2 linked regions of the Homo sapiens genome follow. The protein of the gene in region 2 interacts with the protein of the main gene of each other region in a pairwise test. Each region holds a gene or a part of one and is shown on either strand. Other genes may lie near its edges.

Region 1 (3,500 bases), on a different chromosome or scaffold from region 2:
CCAACACTGCATTAAAAAAACAGCATGCGACCTGCCAAATATATTAACAATATATGAAGCTTGTTCTCTCGATACAGCTTTTTAAATGCATACTTCATTGCTTTTTGCTCTACTCCCTTGCTTTGCAGAGTTTAACATTTCTTTTCTTGAAATTGCCAACTAGCAACTATAGTATAATGCATATCAAATTGGCTGGCCTGGTAATGCTAATAGTTATTTATTTTGAGAAACACTCAAAATTTTTCTTTGGACTACATGTTTGTAATCTTAGTTGATCTTGCTACTTTCCAGCCCAATGTTTTAATTATTCATATAAAGACATATACTGTCCATAGCCCCTGTGCTGTACTCATGCTCTCCTGCGGATTCTTCATATTTTTTCTTTTCTTTTATCCTTATAAACAGACTTTTAGATCCCTGACCTAAAGTGCCACTCGTATGCTTTTCATATTTCCCCATAGTGTCTTGTTCATTTAACCATATATAATTTATCTTTTACAATATTTATAATTGTTCAGAATAGTGATCTGATGCCTGAGAGTTTCAGGATCATAGAATGTGAATCTTATCTTTTGAAACACTTCAAATAGCTCAGAGCAAAGTTGGGCACCTAATCCTAAATAAGAATTATACATGGTATTTAGATTAAAAACTCCTAAGAGACACCATGGCTGCTTGTTCCTGTGTAATGATACCTAATTGACAGGTAAACTGAAGTGCTTCTATATGTAAAGGCTGGCTATAGAGATAATCTCCAAATAGCTACATAAATGCAAGAATTCTGACCACTAGAGTTAGGAGCTAGGGACACTGCAAATGTAGTTCAAAGTAATGAAATTTTAGAGTTAACTGATTTTAGAAATTATCCATCCTATCTTCTAATTTTACAGATGCATACTCTTAAGAGTCAAAGAGGTCTCAGTTTTTAAAGAAGAACTAGAACTTGAGATCTTAACATCTAGCTAATAGCGCTTTGTACTATGTTACATTTCCAAAAGAATCAATGAAGATACTGGCAAATATAAATCTTAACCTAGAAGAGGAAATTATTTTATTTACAGAGGAGATAAGTATTACACACACACACACACACACACACACACACACACACACAAACTCATTCATTTGATAGGTATGCTTTAGACCCTGAACACTCAACTTTCATATTATCTCAACCTAAAACCTCAAATATCCCCAAATGTTACTCAAGCATACCTTGATTCACCCAACGTCTTCGGTTCAAATTTTCCATTAAATATGCACCACAATACCACCTTCAATTTTTTCAAGATGGAATACTATTATATGTTCCTGTAGCACATGCCACAGGATTCTGAGCTGCAAACAAGAAAACGGGAATGAACCTTGTTTGTATTTCTATGAAATGTTTCTTCCTTTCAAGATTTTTTGAAAAAACTGCAGCTTCATTAGAATTTGGCAGGATTCATTCAAGAGATCAACTGCCCTATAAATGAAAAAGTTTCTCCTGGCTTTCTAACTTTTGCATGTGCACACACGTATAACTATTATATTCCCTAAAATAATCCTGCACATACCTGTTAGTGACTTCCAATTATCTTTTAATTTACTTATAAAAGTCCAAATATGTTGCCCCATCACTTTGATTCTTTAAATTGCTATCAGGATCTTTTGGATATGCTTTTATTTCTCTAGAAGAATGCTTTTAAAGCACTAAGTGTTCTTAAACTGTTTATAGGTCAAATTAGATCCATATTATTTTTCAAGTAATGCTAACATTTTTAGAAATAATTGTACTATAAATATTTATATATCATAATCCTTAGGGTCCTAAAAATAATACCTTTTCCTCTATTTCCCAAATTGTAGTTATATTTAGGACTGGAGGAAAACAGAAGTTCTACTCTCAGGAATAGCATTCATAGTTATCTTTCTTTTACCATTCCTAGGTGTTCTGCCTGACTATTGGTACTTTGTATATTACATAAAATATAATAATAGATAATGCTGTATCATAGATGACAAAGAATCTGAATCTGATATTTTATATTCAGTTATCACTCAAGATCAAAGTTGAATTAGTGAATGCATACTAAACTGAATAGTTTGAGCACCAGTTCATTCCGTTCTACACTAAATAATATGAATACTATACCTTATCCTAACGAATCTCCAACATAGACCTCTTAGAGTACAGATAAGAAAAAAGGAAGGAAATATTAACCTGAATTATATGTGACATCCCCCTGCAACCTCTTTTCAAACATATTATGAAACTCACTAGCTAATAAAAAAAAAAAAATGACAAAGGGACCTCAGGAGAGCAGTGAAAAAAAAGTCTTTGGACTTTGAAAACCATTGCCCAACAAACACTGGCCCAGGGCAAATAACCAAAGGAAGAATTGTAGGCAAACAAATAATACTTTAACTTTGCAATTAGAATAAAAGTGTTTTAGAACTTTGTCAAGCAACCTAATTAACTGTGACTGAAAAATTAATAGTATAATAAAGTATTACTTTTTTATCTTGTGTTCTCCTAGGTGAAGGAATATTTCTCATTTTCAGTGTCGTATTTCTTTTTCATTAGGATGATCTTTTATTAGATAAATATAAAATAGCTTAAAATGGTACGTGAAAGATCTTATGTAAAAGTTTCACAACCAGTGTTCAAACAACCTATCTCCCTGGTATTTCAATTGTACTTAATATAAAAACAAAAACAAAAACAAAAAGGCAAACTCAGTACTAATGTAAACACTGACAACATTCTGAAATAAATTTTGATTAAAAATATGACAAGAAAACATGATTTGGGTCTACCTCTTGTTTTACTCCTACACTAAGAAATTAACAACAGGCAACACAGGTTAACTCTTTCCCTTCTTTTCTTGAAAATGTTCCTGAAGCCCTGAATGAGAGGACACATCCTTTATAAAATTGCTGCTCAGTGTCCCAATTGATCTAACTCCCTTAAACTGCCAATATCAAAATCATATAAGGCTCTGAGGCTTTTTTTTTTTTTTTGGCTCTATGCAGTGAATTTCATTTCTTCTCTATTACACTTACTCTCAATGCATCTGATCCTTAGGTTGGTCAATGTGACAGAATTGATTGGGAAAGGTAGGGGAACCAAGAGTGCATAGGACATAATGAAACCCCATGCATCTCCACAATGAGAAATATTAAAGTGGAGCTACACATACATTTTTAAGAAAGATCATATCTTCTGTTTTTTAACATTTTCTTTTCTAAAACACACTTTCTTTCAAAGATGTGAAGAGCAGAAATAGAAACGCTGTTACATATGAAAGTTTCAACGGATTTGCTGCCAGCAGCTTTTCTTTATAGTGTTCCTCTTACCTACACTATGTGTTGGCACTGGCAGGTAGCCCTAATTCGTTAGTAGCCAAATTATTTTTGTCCCTGAAGTACGAGAAATCTCCATAGCACATGAATGAGACATGGTTTACTAGTTTACACACATTTTATAACTCCAAGAAACCAAAACTCATTCACAAATG
Region 2 (3,500 bases):
AAATTTTCCGTTATTTAAAAGTATCAGAGCTATGCCCCAGTCTTTTCTATAGAATGAATCATAGCTGAGAAAAATGTATACAAAAAATAAGACATTTCTATTGGCTGGCTGACTACTAGTCACACTTTGGCTATAGGGGAATACATAAAATTCCTAGACTCCCTCCTAGCAAATAGCAAGCTTGGGAGTTTTTCAGCCTATACTTCTCTATTAAATCCTTTTATCTTCCTTTCTTCATCAGTTCCTTCAGCTATCAGCTTTCCTTGGACTCAGTAAGAAACTGAGAATCATATCATACCAACTGTCTAAAGACACTCTAAAGCTCTTAAGTTGAACTTTCACAGACAGCATAATCACTGCTATCTGCTATCCTTTCTACTAGTCTCCACATCCAATGTTATTTTCAGTCTTTTTACCACACATCTCCACGTGAAACCCAGATAGACTCTAAGGTAACCACTGTGATTCCCACCTCCAGGTATTCAAACCATTGGGTAATTCTCCCTGCTTGAGTATGAGTATGACCTATCACTTCCTTCTAACCAACAGAATATGGCAAAGGTGACAGCGTATGTATGATTACATTCCACAAGAATATAATGTCCTTCTTACCAGAAGACCCTCTCTTCCTTACTGGCTTTGAAGAAGCTGTCATGAATGTGAACTACCTATAAAGAAGGCTATGTGAAAGCAACTAAATCTGTCAACAATCACATGGGCTTGGAAGCAGATCCTTCCCTAATTGAGCTTCTGATAAGACCTTGGCCCTAACCAACACCTTGATTACAGCGCCTTGCAAAGGACCCAGCTAAATGTGACTGGACTCCTCACCCAAAGAAACTGTGAGGTAATAAACATGCATTGTGCTAAGCCACTAAGTTTGTGGCAATCTGTCATGCAGCAATAGATGACTAATGCACTCAGCTAGCAGCTCAGCTTATACCATTCATTATAAAAAAAATTTACTGAGCATCACCTACCAAGTGCCAGACAACAATATACTATTCTAAGCACTAAGGATAGAGTAATGAATGAAATAGAGGAAGACTCTGCTCATGTCAGTCAATAAACAAAATAAATATCTAATATAGAGTCAATTAGTGATGCGGATATTTGAGCAAGGACTGAATGGAATGAGAAAATGTGCCATGGAAAGATCCTGGGGGAGAATAAGTAGACAGCAAGAGTTAAAGCCTGGAAACAGGAGTATGGCAAGTCCAAGGAACAGAGAACTCTGAGGATAGGTCATACAGAGTCTTACAGAAATCTCTTTAAGTGTGACAGCCTTGAAAGTGTTTTCAGTAGGAACTGACATGATTTAGTATGTTTTTAAAAAATCATTCTGGCTGTTGTGTGGAAAACACAATGGGTTAAGGGGAAGAAGAGACGCAGAAAGACCAATTAGGACACTACTTAAGGTGAGTGATGATGATGATGTACTGTACTAAAGTAGTGATGTCACAAATGATGAGAGGTGACATATTTATTAAGACATATTTTGAAGGTGCAGCAAACAGCATTTGCTCATATTTTAAATATAGGATTTAAGTAAGAAGAATAAAAGATGACCTTGCAGTTTAGGGCATTAGCAATTACATGAATGCTGTTGCCATTCACTTCAATAGGGGAAACCAGAGAAAAAAAACTGCGCTTAGACATATTACATTTGGTATGTTTAATAAATAAATATTCAAGTGGAAATGTCAAGTAGGCAACTGGATACACAAATCTAAAACTCAAGGGAGAAGTTGACTTGAGTTCAAAATGTGAGCATCAGCTTATAGACAATCTTAAGACATGTGACAGCATGAAAGCACATAAAGAAATAATATAAATGGAGAAAAGGTCCATGGACTGACTCCTGTGAAAACAGGAGAATACGCCAGCAAAGAGGGGCAAGAACAGTCAGTGAGGTAGGAGAACCAGGATAGCATACTGTCTTAGGGGCCAAACACAGAAAAAGTTTTGAGTAGGATGGAAGGAGATCAACTGTATCAAATGCAGTTGAGCGGACAGTAAGATAAGACTCAAAAATGACCCCTTGACCTATAAAAAGGCAGTCACTAGTGATCTCGACAAGTTAAATGGTAGGAAAGAAAGACTAACTAGAGAAGTCACAAGAAAAAAATGAAACATAAAGATAATAAAAATGGAGAATCCTCTAAAAGGACCAGTGGAAACAGTGCAGTGATTGGGGTTGGGTTATGTGAATGAAGTGAAAAGCAGAATTTTTTTTTAAGTTTTATTTTAGGATGGGTAGTATCATGGCATGCTTGTATGCTATCAGAAATACTCTGGTAGAAAGGGAAAATATAATGCTGGAGAGAAGGATGATAACTGTAGGAACAAAGTTCTTCATTTGACAAAAAGGAATGGGATATAGTACACACTTGGAGCTTAGGCTTTAAATAAAACAGAGACAGGTCATCCACAGGAAAAGGCAGAGTAGATATATGGGTGCTTACAGTGAATAATGAATTAGAGTAAGCCACCTGAGAATTGTATCACCTACATATAAAAAGCTAAACTCAAAATCCAATAGCCCTTCCAAGATTAGAATATTTAAGATGGAAACACAAAGCTAATACAACCTTTTCATTACTAAATCTAGTTACATGCATATCAGGAAGAGAGGTTTTTTGTTTTTGTTTTTCCAAATTCTTCTCAGGAATAAGACCTACCTGGACTCTCCACTCTCTTATAGTGGTATGGGTTGATACAAACTTCTTTTTGCTTAGATCCAAAAGGAAATTCACAAATATCCAACGGCTTTAGCTCATGATGACTCTGCAAATCCGGCCAGCGCCAAACACGACAATATATAACATGGGGTAAGCCTTTTCTGTGAGAAACCTGCAGGCGTCCATCTAAAGATCTGGGAATAGTGACACATTTACTCGGCTGTCCTGGACTGCTCAAGGCTTTCTCCAGTTCCTCCATGGCACCCTTTTTCTTTTTTAGTTTCTTCACCAAAGCATCAACTGCCTTTTCTGCCCATTTCTCCTCCTCATCACCTTGTTTCCAGCCCAACAATCGCTTTACTGCTGGACTAGTAAAAGAAAACAAGCTGGCCATTGACGTCATTTGACACAAATCTTCGGAGACCTTCCTGTAACTCAAAGTCAGTGGCTACCGAAAGAACAGATCACAGGTGAAACGTCATACACAGGTCCTAAGCAGAAGTTCCAATTAAAAAGGGAGGAGTAACATTTATCTTCACAAGTGCCATATGCTTCTTTCATTGGGTCAAGTCCTGAAAGAGAAAGGGGGAAAGGATCCTAGTTTAAATCAATTCAATATATACAAATTTAAATTAATATAATCGAAAGGCATATTTTATTAAATAAGAACAGAAAAGCATTACAAAGTAAACAAAAAATTGATAAATTTTCTCCAAAAGTTCTGTGACCACTCGATTCCTTCCCCATAATATGAACAAGTAAGACACTGGCAATGTCAAATGATAACCAGAGGCAAAACCAGGTTGCTCTACCTCCTAT

What was found.
Region 1: the proteins of SMAD5 (region 2) and SOX5 interact in a two-hybrid assay, tested with the Homo sapiens proteins (one large-scale study listed by BioGRID and IntAct).

Annotation. Positions count from the first base shown.
Region 1 is NC_000012.12:23,939,671-23,943,170, forward strand, and holds part of SOX5 (transcription factor SOX-5), read right to left. Parts: intron 1-3,500.
Region 2 is NC_000005.10:136,153,345-136,156,844, reverse strand, and holds part of SMAD5 (mothers against decapentaplegic homolog 5), read right to left. Parts: intron 3,254-3,500; 5' UTR 3,085-3,253; coding exon 2,682-3,084; intron 1-2,681. UniProt on the Homo sapiens protein: Transcriptional regulator that plays a role in various cellular processes including embryonic development, cell differentiation, angiogenesis and tissue homeostasis.